Regions from separate parts of the Homo sapiens genome. Here region 2 is linked to region 1. A link means that fine-mapping ties the variant in region 1 to the expression of a gene that starts in the linked region. Tissue or cell type: whole blood. Region 1 holds a variant in brackets; the other region holds the start of a gene. All regions are shown on one strand. Distances are from middle to middle.

Evidence for each region. PIP is the estimated chance that this variant, and not a neighbour inherited with it, causes the effect.
Region 2: ENTPD1 starts here. The variant in region 1 is fine-mapped to the expression of ENTPD1 in whole blood (INTERVAL, PIP 0.97).

What each region holds. Positions count from the first base shown.
Region 1 is chr10:95,849,370-95,857,476 of GRCh38, forward strand. All of the region lies in intron 7 of ENTPD1 (ectonucleoside triphosphate diphosphohydrolase 1), which reads left to right. The region is part of intron 3 of ENTPD1-AS1 (ENTPD1 antisense RNA 1); the gene reads right to left. Among named protein-coding and RNA genes, the nearest start is that of CC2D2B, 55 kb to the right of the region's middle. The variant G/T (reference allele first, on the strand shown) is at 4,126.
Region 2 is chr10:95,751,180-95,759,286 of GRCh38, forward strand. It overlaps ENTPD1 (ectonucleoside triphosphate diphosphohydrolase 1), which reads left to right and starts at 4,984. Exons shown (of 10, transcript NM_001776.6): 1 at 4,984-5,076. The coding sequence starts at 5,061. It overlaps ENTPD1-AS1 (ENTPD1 antisense RNA 1), which reads right to left. Exons shown (of 6, transcript NR_038444.1): 6 at 2,027-5,535. RefSeq lists an enhancer at 4,545-4,844 and a silencer at 6,175-6,234.

The sequences.
Region 1 (8,107 bases):
AACAAGGCTTTTGCCTGCCTTCATGCTTTCTCCCTTTTCAGAAAACAGATCAGCATGTAAGAAGGGAGGTTCAGCTCCTCCCCTCCAGGACCCCAGCAAGAGAGTTTCTCCTAAGGTCACCTGGCTTGGCCCAAGACAAAGCTCTAGAAGAGAACATAGGCACTGTCGTAATCAGATCTGATTCTACTTCTGGCTTCTTATGAACTGTATGAGCTCTTCATTTTCTTGGTCTCTGAGAAAACAATAGGTAATGCCATAGATCCAGACTTACCTTAACCATGGTCCAAACCACAGTCTACCCTCCCCTCAAGGTTCCTGAGGGAAATACATGACAAGACAATGACTGGCAGAGTAATATTTGGTTATTAGTTGGCTGCAAACCCAAATTCAGAAGAAACTGAACCTCACTTGAATGCCCTGTGGCTGAGCTGGCACTGGCTCTTCACCTTGGACTTTTTTTTGGGCCAGGGCCCTTGCCTTAGATTGAACTCCTTGAAGAGGAAGGAGGGTGCCACCTTGGCCAAGGGCCTTTTTCATTCCAGTCACTGCGAGGATGTAAATCTAAAGTCAATGAACATACCCTTGTGTCTTGAGTTTGTAACTTCTCAGAAAGTTTCACTTCCTGGGAAACATGGCCAATTCCTGCCTTCAAGCTTGAGCAAACCTTTCCTCCTTAGGGGACTGAAATTTCTTGCCTTTGAATGTGATTCATCCAACCAAAGCAGGGAGAGATAGGGGCTGGAAAAGGGTGGAGGAGTCTTGAACTCCCCCTGGAGGCTTTTCTATTTGATCCCTTAGTTCCTCATTGAGATTGTTCTCCCAGCCTTCTGAACCTCAGTTTGGCAGTTCCTGAGACTATCGCATTGCCTGCCTCTATGTAGGATCTTTCTCCTCTAGATACAGCCCTCAGGGTCAGGACTGTCCTGTCCCGATTTCTGCATTGGCAGTTTCATTCTGCTTCAGATTTTTGATGTTTTTTGTTTTGTTTTGTTTTATGCCCTCTGTAATGTATCCCTAAGACCTAAAGTTTTTTTGTCTGTTTCCTCATCTGTACAATGGGGACAGTAATATCTACCTCATTGATAGTTGTGAGTCAGACAAGCAGTGATGGTCTGGGAAATGTCCAACAACCAACTCTCGGGGAATGGGGAGCTGATTTGTAGCACTTACCAGTTTCCATGGTGTAAGTAGTTCTACCACAGCCTATTTCAAGCTATATCAACATATCAACTGGCTCACAAAAATCTGGAAATTTTAAGAATCAGCTCTTGTGAGTACATAAGAAAGAGTCAGCTCCAGCACACCACTGTAAATAGCAAAAAGCGGGCATACCCCAGCACCACCCTTAAAAAGGTTAGGTCTTTATCCTAGCAGTCTTCATTCTATGCTGTCCTTCCTGCAGGGAGTTCCTGTTATCGAGTCCTGCCTCTTGAAGCATAGCTATGTGCAACACAGAAATCCAGTTTCATTCCCATTCTTTCCAGAACTAGTTAGCCTGGGTGTTCTCAAGCCACAGAGAATTTGTTGGGGAGGGAGTTTTTGCCACAGTTGCATTCAGCACTGATGATCTGATTCTTAGTTGGTAAATATGGTATTAAAAATTGTCATTGCTTTAGTCAGTCTGGCTACACTGTAGCCTTGGTTGCTAAACAGAATCCAATGTTGTGGGCAAATTAGAAACACTAACAAGAAAGAGGGAACATCTGTAGGGAATTACTTATGAGGTAATTTAGAAATTATTTTTAAAGATCACATTGTGCTGTTTATATAAATAAGAAAGGGAAGAAACAAGTTCAATAGGAAACTGGAATTAAAGAACATTAAAAACACATTTGTTTACATATGTATACATAAATGTGTGTATATTTATATTTATATTTATTTATATTTATATTTTTGTTGGTACAAAAGTAATTGTGGTTTCAGACCATGAATTTTATTTTTTTAATTTTTTTTGAAAAGTACTAAATATATAAATATTCACAAGTTCAACAAAGGAGAGAAAATAACACCAATAAAATCCCCAAAAACTTAACAATACATTAATCTAGGTTGGATGATCTTTTTTTTTTAATTATACTTTAAGTTCTAGGGTACATGTACACAACATGCAGGTTTGTTAGATATGTATACATACGCCATGTTGGTGTGCTGCACCCATTAACTCGTCATTTACATTAGGTATATCTCCTAATGCTATCCCTCCCCCCTCCCCCCACCCCACGACAGTCCCCGGTGTGTGATGTTCCCCTTCCTGTGTCCATGTGTTCTCATTGTTCAATTCCCACCTATGAGTGAGAACATGCAGTGTTTGTTTTTTTGTCCCTGCGATAGTTTGCTGAGAATGATGGTTTCCAGCTCCATCCATGTCCCTGCAAAGGACATGAACTCATCATTTTTTATGGCTGCATAGTATTCCATGGTGTATATGTGCCACATTTTCTTAATCCAGTCTATCATTGATTGACATTTGGGTTGGTTCCAAGTCTTTGCTATTGTGAATAGTGCCGCAGTAAACATACGTGTGCATGTGTCTTTATAGCAGCATGATTTATAATCCTTTGGGTATATACCCAGTAATGGGATGGCTGGGTCAAATGGTATTTCTAGTTCTAGATCCTTGAGGAATCGCCACACTGTCTTCCATAATGGTTGAACTAGTTTACAGTCCCACCAACAGTGTAAAAGTGTTCCTATTTCTCCACATCCTCTCCAGCACCTGTCGTTTCCTGACTTTTTAATGATTGCCATTCTAACTGGTGTGAGATGGTATCTCATTGTGGTTTTGATTTGCATTTCTCTGATGGCCAGTGATGATGAGCATTTTTTCATGTATCTGTTGGCTGCAAAAATGTCTTCTTTTGAGAAGTGTCTATTCAGGTCCTTCGCCCACTTTGTGATGGGGTTGTTTGTTTTTTTCTTGTAAATTTGTTTGAGTTCATTTTAGATTCTGGATATTAGCCCTTTGTCAGATGATTAGGTTGCAAAAATTTTCTCCCATTCTGTAGGTTGCCTGTTCACTCTGATGGTAGTTTCTTTTGCTGTGCAGAAGCTCTTTAGTTTAATTAGATCCCATTTGTCAATTTTGGCTTTTGTTGCCATTGCTTTTGGTGTATTAGACATGAAGTCTTTGCCCATGCCCATGTCCTGAATAGTATTGCCTAGGTTTTCTTCTAGGGTTTTTATGGTTTTGGGTCTAACATGTAAGTCTTTAATCCATCTTGAATTAATTTTTGTCTAAGGTGTAAGGAAGGGATCCAGTTTCAGCTTTCTACGTATGGCTAGCCAGTTTTCCCAGCACCATTTATTAAATAGGGAATCCTTTCCCCATTGTTTGTTTTTGTCAGGTTTGTCAAAGATCGGATAGTTGTAGATATGTGGCATTATTTCTGAGGGCTCTGTTCTGTTCCATTGGTCTGTATCTCTGTTTTGGTACCAGTATCATGCTGTTTTGGTTACTGTAGCCTTGTAGTATAGTTTGAAGTCAGGTAGCGTGATGCCTTCAGCTTTGTTCTTTTGGCTTAGGATTGACTTGGCAATGCAGGCTCTTTTTTGGTTCCATATGAACTTTAAAGTATTTTTTTCCAATTCTGTGAAGAAAGTTATTGGTAGCTTGATGGGGATGGCATTGAATCTATAAATTACCTTGGGCAGTATGGCCATTTTCATGACATTGATTCTTCCTACCCATGAGCATGAAATGTTCTTCCATTTGTTTGTATCCTCTTTTATTTCATTGAGCAGTGGTTTGTAGTTCTCCTTGAAGAGGTCCTTCACATCCCTTGTAAGTTGGACTCCCAGGTATTTTATTCTCTTTGAAGCAATTGTGAATGGGAGTTCACTCATAATTTGGCTCTCTGTTTGTCTGTTATTGGTGTATAAGAACGCTTGTGGTTTTTGCACATTGATTTTGTATCCTGAGACTTTGCTGAAGTTGTTTATCAGCTTAAGGAGATTTTGGGCTGAGATGATGGGGTTTTCTAGACATACAATCATGTCATCTGCAAACAGGGACAATTTGACTTCCTCTTTTCCTAATTGAATGCCCTTTATTTCCTTCTCCTGCCTGATTGCCCTGGCCAGAACTTCCAACACTATGTTGAATAGGAGTGGTGAGAGAGGGTA[G/T]CCCTGTCTTGTGCCAGTTTTCAAAGGGAATGCTTCCAGTTTTTGCCCATTCAGTATGATATTGGCTGTGGGTTTGTCATAGATAGCTCTTATTATTTTGAGATATGTCCCATCATTACCTAATTTATTGAGAGTTTTTAGCATGAAGAGTTGTTGAATTTTGTCAAAGGCCTTTTCTGCATCTATTGAGATAATCATGTGGCTTTTGTCTTTGGTTCTGTTTATATGCTGGATTACGTTTATTGATTTTCGTATGTTGATCCAGCCTTCCATCCCAGGGATGAAGCCCACTTCATCATGGTGGATAAGCTTTTTGATGTGCTGCTGGATTCGGTTTGCCAGTATTTTATTGAGGATTTTTGCATCAATGTTCATCAAGGATATTGGTCTAAAATTCTCTTTTTTTGTTGTGTCTCTGCCAAGCTTTGGTATCAGGATGATGCTGGCCTCATAAAATGAGTTAGGGCAGATTCCCTCTTTTTCTATTGATTGGAATAGTTTCAGAAGGAATGGTACCAGCTTCTCCTTGTATCTCTGGTAGAATTCGGCTGTGAATCCATCTGGTCCTGGACTTTTTTTGGTTGGTAAGCTATTAATTATTGCCTCAATTTCAGAGCCTGTTATTGGTCTATTCAGAGATTCAACTTCTTCCTCGTTTAGTCTTGGGAGGGTGTGTGTGTCGAGGAATTTATCTATTTCTTCTAGATTTTCTAGTTTATTTGCATAGAGGTGTTTATAGTATTCTCTGATGGTAGTTTGTATTTCTGTGGGATCGGTGGTGATATCCCCTTTACCATTTTTTATTGCATCTGTTTGATTCTTCCCTGTTTTCTTCTTTATTAGTCTTGCTAGCAGTCTATCAATTTTGTTGATCTTTTCAAAAAACCAGCTCCTGGATTCACTGATTTGTTGAAGGGCTTTTTGTGTCTCTATTTCCTTCAGTTCTGCTGTGATCTTAGTTATTTCTTGCCTTCTGCTAGCTTTTGAATATGTTTGCTCTTGCTTCTCTAGTTCTTTTAATTGTGATGTTAGGTTGTCAATTTTAGATCTTTCCTGCTTTCTCTTGTGGGCATTTAGTGCCATAAATTTCCCTCTACATACTGCTTTGAATGTGTCCCAGAGATTCTGGTATGTTGTGTCTTTGTTCTCGTTGGTTTCAAAGAACATCTTTATTTCTGCCTTCATTTCGTTACGTACCCAGTAGTCATTCAGGAGCAGGTTGTTCAGTTTCCATGTAGTTGAGCAGTTTTGTGTGAGTTTCTTAATCCTGAGTTCTAGTTTGATTGCACTGTGGTCTGAGAGACAGTTTGTTATAATTTCTGTTCTTTTACATTTGCTGAGGAGTGCTTTACTTCCAACTATGTGGTCAATTTTGGAATAAGTGTGGTGTGGCGCTGAAAAGAATGTATATTCTGTTGATTAGGGGTGGAGAGTTCTGTAGATGTCTATCTATTAGGTCCACTTGGTGCAGAGCTGAGTTCAATTCCTGGATATCCTTGTTAACTTTCTGTCTCATTGATCTGTCTAATGTTGACAGTGGGGTGTTAAAGTCTCCCATTATTATTGTGTGGGAGTCTAAGTCTCTTTGTGGGTCACTAAGGACTTGCTTTATGAATTTGGGTGCTCCTGTATTGGGTGCATATATATTTAGGATAGTTAGCTCTTCTTGTTGAATTGATCCCTTTACCATTATGTAATGGCCTTCTTTGTCTCTTTTGATCTTTGTTGGTTTAAAGTCTGTTTTATCTGAGACTAGGATTGCAACCCCTGCCTTTTTTTGTTTTCTATTTGCTTGATAGATCTTCCTCCATCCCTTTATTTAAGCCTATGTGTGTCTCTGCACACGAGATGGGTTTCCTGAATACAGCACACTGATGGGTCTTGACTCTTTATCCAATTTGCCAGTCTGTGTCTTTTAATTGGAGCATTTAGCCCATTTACATTTAAGGTTAATATTGTTATGTGTGAATTTGATCCTGTCATTATGATGTTAGCTGGTTATTTTGCTCGTTAGTTGATGCAGTTTCTTCCTAGCCTTGATGGTCTTTACAATTTGGCATGTTTTTGCAGTGGCTGGTACCAGTTGTTCCTTTCCATGTTTAGTGCTTCCTTCAGGAGCTCTTTTAGGGCAGGCCTGGTGGTGACAGAATCTCTCAGTGTTTGCTTGTCTGTAAAGTATTTTATTTCTCCTTCACTTATGAAGCTTAGGTTGGCTGGACATGAAATTCTGGGTTGAAAATTCTTTTCTTTAAGAATGTTGAATATTGGCTACCACTCTCTTCTGGCTTATAGAGTTTCTGCCAAAAGGTCTGCTGTTAGTCTGATGGGCTTCCCTTTGTGGGTAACCCGACCTTTCTCTCTGGCTGCCCTTAACATTTTTTCCTTCATTTCAACTTTGGTGAATCTGATAATTATGTGTCTTGGAGTTGCTCTTCTCGAGGAGTATCTTTGTGGCGTTCTCTGTATTTCCTTAATTTGAATGTTGGCTTGCCTTGCTAGATTGGGGAAGTTCTCCTGGATAATATCCCGCAGAGTGTTTTCCAACTTGGTTCCATTCTCCCCGTCACTTTCAGGTACACCAATCAGACGTAGATTTGGTCTTTTCACATAATCCCATATTTCTGGGAGGCTTTGTCCGTTTCTCTTTATTCTTTTTTCTCTAAACTTCCCTTCTCACTTCAATTCATTCATTTCGCTAGACCATTCTTAAAAGAAGATATACAAATGGCCAACAAACATGAAAAAATGCTCAACATCACTAATTATCAGGGAAATGCAAATTAAAACCACAGTGAGACACTACCTTACTCTCCTGCAAGAATGGTCATAATTTAAAAATCAAAAAATAATAGATGTTGGCATGGATGTGGTGTAAAGGGAACACTTTTGCACTGCTGGTGGGAATGTAAACCAGTACAACCACTATGGAAAACAGTATAGAGACTCCTTAAGGAACTAAAAGTAGAACTACTGTTTGATCCAGCAATCCCACTACTGGATATCTACCCAGAGGAAAATAAGTCATTGTATGAAAAAGACACTTGCACACACATGTTCACAGCAACACAATTCGCAGTTGCAAAAATATGGAACCAGTCCAAATGCCCATCAATCAACAAGTGGACAAAGAAAATGTGGTAAATATATATATGTATGCATATATATATATATATATATACACACACATAAATGTATATACACACACTATGGAATACTACTCAGCCATAAAAAGGAATGAAATCATGGCATTTGCAGCAAGGACACATGATGTATTAAGTAAAACAAAGCAGTATTATAAAAAATTTGTCTAGTATCATCATATTTAGGTTATATATATACATATACACATATATAATTATATAAATATGTATTCACTATTTTCTATTACATATCTATTTGCTATAGATATTAAACAGTAAATTGTTAAAAAGTGTACATCTCTAGAGGATGGTTAGATTAAGGAGGGACTTCCATTTTTAACTTGTATTATTTAAATTCTATATAATAAACGTGTTTTTTTTTAATAAGCCAGCATTTTAAAGACATTTCTATTTTGAAGGAAAAGAAATGAATAGGGAAACTTCATGTTTTGAGAAATAAATAAGAGCAAGATTCTGAGATGCCAGAGGGAGGCTTCTGAAGGTCATGGGAAATTTTTCAAGAGCCGATGGCATGTAGTGTCTTGGGGGGTTGGAGGTGGCATGGACCAGGAGGCCCTGCTGACTTGATCGCTATGTATCCTACTGAAGGCTCAATATGTTGCTAAATCTACCTCATAGAAATTTGTTGTTTGTTGATCTGTTTTTTATAATTTGTACTTACTTTATAAAGCAAATGTCACTACTTAGCAAAAGCAAGAGAGTTTCTAGATGCTTACCTCATTGAGACTTTTGCTAATAGAATAAGCTCTAGGATTAATTTCAGAAAGTCTTTTGAAATGTAACAATTTAAGGAAATATTTATTAGTGCTTTATTACATGCT
Region 2 (8,107 bases), 98 kb before region 1:
ATGCATGATAAGGAGACTAGAATTTTTAAAGTCTGCCAATGACATTATCAGATATCGATTTCAGAAAGATGAGAGAGTATGCACTATGGCAGAAGTGACGAGAATGGAGAGAGGAGATGAATTTGAGAGATCTTAAGGTATAGAAACAATTGGATTTGGTAAACAATAAGATGTGGGATGTGGGGAGGGGTCTAGGAGGACCCTGAGGTTGCTGGGTTGTGTGACTAGGTGGATGGTAGTGCCATTATCTAATGTAGGGGTTGGGCGCAGTGGCTCACGCCTGTAATCCCAGGACTTTGGGAGGCCGAGGCAGCCTATCACCTGAGGTCAGGAGTTCGAGACCAGGCTGGACCACATGGCAAAACCCTGTCTCTCCTAACACAAAATTAGCCAGGCATGGTGGTGTGCACCTGCAATCCCAGCTACTCAGGAGGTGGAGGCACAAGAATCGCTTGAACCTGGGAGGCAGAGGTTGCAGTGAGTCAAGATCGTGCCACTGCACTCCAGCCTGGGCGACAGAGTGAGACATCGTCTCAAAAAAAAAAAAAAAAGTAGGGAATACTGGTACTGGATGGGAGCAGATTTGGAAGTAAAGATACAGAGTACAGTTTGGATGCTAAGTTTGAGCTGCTTGTGGGATATTCTCTTGACACCCAGTAGGTGGATGGAAATATGGATCTGGTGCTCATGGGAGTGGACTTGGCAGAAATGTAAAGGCATAAGAAGTTATGACCTAGGTAGAATAAGTGAAGTAGGGAGAGAAGGCAAAGGGTGAAGGTCTAGGGAATACCAACATTTACAAGACACAAAAGTTGACTGAAAAGGAGCCATCATACACAGATGGAGGAGGAAAATCAGACATGAGGGGGGTTCTGGAAAATAAGGAGAGATCAATTTTCAAGAAAGAAGGAAGGCCAACAATGGCCCATGCTACATAGATCCAAGAAGATAAAACACAAAAATTGGTCTTTGCTTTACAGGCCATTGGCAATCTTAGGGCAGTTTCATTGGCATGGTGCGGTGAGAAACGGGAATGCAATGGAAGGAGGAGTAAATGAATGAGGAGAGAATGGAGGTGATGAAGGAAGGCAAAGGTAGACCATGGTCTCAAGTAGCTTGTTTGTGAAGGAGCTGTTTTTGTTTTAATTAATTTTTTAAAAATTGTGATAAAATAGACATAAAAGTTACTATATTGCTGGGCCCAGTGTCTCACGCCTGTAATCCCAGCACTTTGGGAGGCCGAGGTGGGCAGATCACCTGAGGTCAGGAGTTCGAGACCAGCCGCCTGACCAACATGGAGAAACCCTGTCTCTACTAAAAACACAAAATTAGCTGGGTGTGGTGGTGCATGCCTGTAATCCCAGCTACTCGGGAGGCTGAGGCAGGAGAATCACTTGCACCCAGGAGGCAGGGGTTGCGGTGAGCCGAGATGCTGAGATCGCGACATTGCACTCCAGCCTGGGCAATAAGAGCGAAACTCTGTCTCAAAAAAAAAGTTACCATATTAATCATTTAAAATTTATTTTTATTTTTGTAGAGATGGGGTCTTGTTATGTTGCCTAGGCTGGTCTCAAACTCCAGGCCTCCAGACAACCTACTGCTTCAGCCTCCCAAAATGCTGGGGTTACACGGTGAGCCAATGCACCTGGCCCATATTAATCATTTTTAACAGTATACTTAAGTATTTTTAAGTACATTCACATTGTTGTGCTGCCAATCTCAAGAATTTATTCATCTTGCAACACTAATAATTCATACCATTAAACAACAGAATTTGTTTTTAAGAATGAGAATCACTTAAATATTTTATATGCATAGGGGGATGAACCGGTACAGTGAAAGAGGATGAAGGTGTAGGAAAAATGAAAATTCTACCATTCTAAGAACTTTATAAGACCATTTCATCATTAAAAGACAGACAAATATCTTTACCCCTTTCTGACAACTCCTTCCATCTTTCTGAGTGCAGTTTTAATTTTCTACTTTCTATTACAAAAAAAAACAATAAAATTGATGATAATTTTTTGTTGAGAAAGACGATTTATTTTTTAAGATAAATTCTGAGGCCTTTAGAAAGATACACACAAACTCCCATCTCTTTTATAATTATTCTTGTATGAATTGGTGATAATATATACTTAACCATAGTATTTTCATGATGCTGAGGAGGGTGCGAACCTGGACAACGTGATTAAATTGTAGCACAGAGCATATTACCATAAAAAGCATTAAATGTTGTCAAAAGGCTCATGTAATATGAATTAGGGGTTAAAACTATGTTTCTATTACTCCATATTCAGTTTGGATGAACTTCAAATATTTATGAAGTGCTAGTTACTATAATGAGATTTTACCTCTCCTGGTTAAACCAGAAGTTGGGTACTAGAACAATTTACTTTTTACTAACTCTTTCTCTCCCTGATGAAATGTAAAGAGAATGAGACAATTGTCAAAGTAACCTTTTGTCGACAACGTCTGATACAACATGACTGAAGTGACCTTGAATTTTAATTTTGTTTAAAATAGAGAACTGTGGCTAGGCACTGTGGCTCACACCTGTAATCCTAGCACTTTGGGAGGCCAAGGCAAGCGGATCACTTGAGGCCAGGAGTTTGAGACCAGCCTGGACAACATGGTGAAACCCAATCTCTACTAAAAATACAAAAATTAGCCAGGCTTAGTGGTGCGCATCTATAATCCCAGTTACGCGGGAGGCTGAGGCACAAGAATCACTTGAACCTGGGAGGCAGAGGTTGCAGTGAGCCAAGATCACGCCACTGCACTCCAGCCTGGATGACAGAGTGAGGCTCTGTCTCAAAAAAAAGAATGTAAGAACGTAGTAAAATAGGCCAGGCATGGTGGCTCACGCCTGTAATCCCAGCACTTTGGGAGGCTGAGGCGGGCGGATCACCTGAGGTCAGGAGTTCGAGACCAGCCTGACCAACATGGTGAAACCCCATCTCTACTAAAAATACACAAATTAGCTGGGCAAGGTGGCGGGCGCCTGTAATCCCAGCTACTTGGAGGCAGAGGCAGGAGAATCACTTGAACCCGGGAGGCAGAGGGTGCAGTAAGCTGAGATGGCTCCATTGCACTCCAGCCTGGGAGACAAGAGTAAAACTCTTGTCTCAAAAAAAAAAAAAAAAAAAGAACCTAATATCCTAATGTAATAAAGTAGAGAACCGTTGCCACAGCACCCACCAAAGTGTGTCTCTCATTGACAAGCTCAGGTACTTGTTTGTCTGTTTCTCCTGCCTACCCCTCAGCCACTCTGGATCTTCCCTTTGATCATTCTTTTCTCTTTCTAGCTTTGATGTTTTGGTTTCCATTCTGTAATTCGCACACTATTTTGTGGACATGCTCTTTTCAAATTTCTCTCCAAAACAATAGTACAAAGGCAGTCATAAACCAATTGTTGGTTTTTACAAAAAATCCCATCATATCACCAAAAACCAGTTTTATCATAACAGGATGAATATCAGACCAATATTCATTATTAGAGATGTAGTCTAAACTGACTCGGGAGAAGACATCCATTGAGTCTTTCATTCAGTGTAATTAGTTGTTATCATACATGCAAAATCCTATAACTATAAAGCATTTCAGAAATAAAGTATTGTTAAACAGCTCCAAATTTATTAAAGTATAAAAAATGTATTGAGTATATACCATGTGGCACCGTGCAAAGTAACAGAGATGCCTAAACTAAAAGGTTATCCTTTGTCCTTATTAAAGTATGACTGAAAGCTCGCTGGAGAATATAGTTTCTACATAGAGTCAAAACAGTCCTTCGGGCTCACAAATTTAATGATTTATATGGTATAACTGGCTTTAGATACAAATTTACATGCCAGACAAGCAATGTAGAAAAATCAAGAACTAGGAAACAGGAAAACAGATCTACATTTCTGCTTTGCTGCAATTCATTCATTTTTTTCAACCATTCATCAAATATTTATTGAGAGCCCATGCTGTGAGAGAAACTGTATTAGGTGCTGGGGAACATGGTAGCAAATAAGAGAGACCATGTATGTGAGCATGAGCAGGTGGCTTAACCTCTCCACATCTCTAACCTCTTTTAGACTCAATGTCTGAGGTATCTTTCAGACCTGAAATGCTAAGGTTTGCAACAGCCTTGTGGAGGGAGAAGCTGCCAAGTCGCCTTGGGACTTGAGGACTTACCTTCCTTTCAAAGGATTAGCCCTTGTTTTGATTTCAAAATAATTTTGTTACACAGTTTAAAAATAATTTGGTCAGGCTCTCATCTACATTGGGGTAATCTTGACGGTCTGGATGTGGTAATTCATGCTCATTAGACTTCAAAGGTAGGAAGTCAAAGTTGGGAAATGGTGGATGACTTTCATCAATTCATAGCCAGGCAGCGGTTCCCATTGAGCAGCTCCTCTGTGGTTCCACCCAGCCTTCCAACCAATAACGCAGCGTCTCCTGCAGGAAACTCATCGCTTGGGTCACCTGTTGCTCTTTGCTCTAATGAGCCTTGAGAAAGGATTGCTGGTCATGGGACCAGAGGCTTTATGGGGAGGGAAGAACTGTTCTTGACTTTCAGTTTTTCGAGCGGGTTTCAAGGTAACAACTTTCTTATTATCTAGCTTCATAATTGCAGTAAGGAATAGCTTTTTTTGCTTGCAGCTGAGATGACTTTTTCAAGGGAGAAAAAGGGATTTCTATAACGAAGAGAGGGAGAGAGAGATGAAGAGGGAGGGAGTAAGGGAGAGAGGGAAGAAGGGAGAAAGAGAGAGAGATTTGAATATACATTGCTTCAAGGATGCAAAAAATTACAACCTGGAAAAGGCTTCGAGTAACTTTAGGAAAATGAGCTGCTGGACTCCTCAGTCAATCTGTCCTTTCTAGTCAATGAAAAAGACAGGGTTTGAGGTTCCTTCCGAAACGGGGCCGGCTAATTTAGCCCCTCCCACGAGCCCAAGGGTCTGTTATATCTCTGTTTCCTTGAGGACCTCTCTCACGGAGACGGACCACAGCAAGCAGAGGCTGGGGGGGGGAAAGACGAGGAAAGAGGAGGAAAACAAAAGCTGCTACTTATGGAAGATACAAAGGGTAAGACCAAAATTGATTTGATCTGAATCCTTAAGAAAAAAAAAATAGAAGGAAAAATAAAAGCCCAGACCAAAAAGCAAGTACTTGAAAGCTGGAGGCAAAAAGCCCTGAATGAACTTTCCCACCCTCTTCCTTCTGAGAGGAGGCAGAGAAAGAGCTTTGGGAAACTTTTTAGGAAGCAGAGTCCAGGGTTGCAGTCAAGGGTGGCTCTAGAGCAAGCTGGAGGGGCTCATGAATATTCATTATCAATTTGTATTCAGAGTTGGTTTTTTTAGAGGCAAATGACTTTTTCAGTCCCCTTGCAGTTTAAGAGGCAGCTGCCTCATCTGCAGTCCGGACTCATCTAGCCTCGGGTCTGTACCTCAGGGTGTTTGCTTGAAGATGCTGGGCTCTGCGTGTAGATTTGTTTTGTTCTCGAATTTCTTGCATGCTTTCCTGTTGTGAAATTAGCAAAGGCTTCTTTGCTGGGAACAAGACAGAGAAGTTAATGTGGCACAAGGCTGTCACAACAGGACCCCAGAGTATGTCTTTCAAAATGCTGAAAGTTTCTTGAGATATGTGGGGGAGTTTTATGTGGGGGACAGAGTGGGGGACGGGGACGGGTAGAGGGAGGAAATAGAATAATTCTATCTTAAAAGGGCAGGTCACATCTGACTACATTTAGATTTTGTCTAAAAACTACAAGAGCAGCCTGGTTTGCACAGATGGTGTGCAGTCTCTATCTTTTACCTCTTTTGGGCATTTTCTGCCAAGACGGAGAGCCAGCTGCTTGCCAGCGTGTGAGAGCCAGGAAGAATCTCTGCAGCAGTGAGGGAGTATAGGGTTGTAAACCTCCTTCTCCTCCTTCTTTATCATCTCTAACTTCTAACATTCCCACATGCTTATACCGTATAGAACATGGAAGAATAGCATGAGTAGCCAACATATTTCTTAATACTTACAATAATGATAGCTGTTAATGTTGACTAAGTCTTTATTCTGTGTTGGGAGCTATACCTAGCATATTACATGTGCTACTTACTTGTCACATGAACCTTACAAGTGCTATCATTGACATTCCCATTTTCCAGATGGCATAATTGAGGTACTGAGAGGATAACTTGCCTTGAGATCTCATAGTTAGTAAGGGCTGAGTGTGGATGGAGGTGGTCTGAGGCAGGGCTGGTGGGCTTTTCCACTCCCCAATACTGTTTCTCTGCTTTTTCTGGTGCCCTGACATTGTGGATTTCAGGTTTGCAAATCCTTGAAGCTACTGGGGAAGTGATACTGGTAAAATCTTAAGTCTGTGAAGGAATTTGTACTTTGCACTCAAGTTCACATACATTTTCCTCATTTGGTGCTCATGGCCATTCTCTATGAGAAGCAGGTATTGTTATTATGGTCTTTTGCAAAAAGGAGAAACTGAGGTCAGAAGGGGTTAGTTTGGTGACACCAGTCACAGCTAGTTGTCAAAAGTCTGGACTGGGGGGCTGGATGTGGTGGCTCGCACCTGTAATCCCAGCACTTTGGGAGGCCGAGGTGGGCGGATCACCTGAGGTCAGGAGTTCGAGACCGGCCTGGCCAACATGATGAAACCCTGTCTCTACTAAAAATACAAAAATTAGCTGGGTGTGGTGGTGTGCGCCTGTAGTCCCAGCCACTTGGAAGGCTGAGGTAGGAGAATCACCTGAACCCGGGAGGCAGAGGTTGCAGTGAGCTGAGGTTGCACCACTGCACTCCAGCCTGGGCGAGAGTGAGACACTGTCTCAAAAAAAAAAAAAAAAAAAAAAAAAAAAGATTTGGACTGGATCTGAAACCCTCTGCTTCTGGTTTTTCTTCCAACCTACAGAGCAGACCCAGTCATCTCTGAACGTCTGTCCCCACCCCAAGCTGCGCCTCATTGAGTTGCTTTCAGTTCCCCAAAGGAACTGCATCTTTCCTCAGACTGAAGCTAGGCACTTTCTTCTGTTTTAAGGGCCTATCTGGTACTCTGCTTCCCCTTTAGTCTGGAGCCGAGCTGCCTGGGTTTGAATTTCAGCTCCACCATTTACTGTGTGCCTTAGTTTCATCATCTGTAACATGAAGAGAATAACAGTAACATCTATCTTACAGGGTTGTGGTAAGGACTGAATGAGGGATTCATGCAAAGTTTTTAGAACAGGGCCTGATATATAGTATTGCTAAATAAATATTAACATTTGCTATCACTGCTTGAAGCCTCATATTGGGTGTTATTCCCCTTTAAGCCTTCTCTAATCCTTCAAGTCTAGATTAGCCCCCATCTTGGATGCTTCTATAGTACCTCATCAGTTATGCCTAAGGTGGCACTCATCATACTTGTCCATGCTCCTGCCCTCTGCATCACCTTCTCTCCCTTCCAATTATATTTTCTGTATTCACCTTTAGATCTGCAGTGTCTAGTGCAATTTTATTTTTAGTCTCTAAACTTGTGGCAACTTTCTCATCAGTGTGGGCAGAGTGGTGGGAGAGGGGCCTCAGTCATGATAGGGGTACAGGAGGTAGCCACAGAGGATGACCATATAGCAGTCATAGAGGGCCAGAAGCCACGCAGGAAGTGGACATATGCTGAGTACTGATTCAGGAAGAGCACATGTCATTCAGCAACCAATGGTTAAGGTGTCAGGTTTCAATGACCTTCTCCATGAGGTCTGTGAGGTCCTCTGACGTACTTATTGTGGGTCAGCTTGGCAGCCACATTCATCAGCCCCTGGGACAGGTTCTTGAATTTGGTGTTCCTCTCAGAGAACATCCCAAGCTTTCCTTAGAAGGTGGTACACACCAGGCTCTTGTGCAAGTCCAAAAGGTCCTTGTCAGCCATTAGCACCTTGAGTTCCCTAATGGGAACTCAATAAATATTTAGTAAGTGAAGTATTATTATTTTAGCTGATGCTCATTTGAGACCTTCAAGAGGCTTGTTTAAAAGGGGACCTTTGAGTTTGCAGTAGGGTTCCCCACTGGTACATATAGATCTTTGGCACAATCTGTAAAGACGTCCCTCTATGTGGATACACTGAAAAACAAAATGCATCCC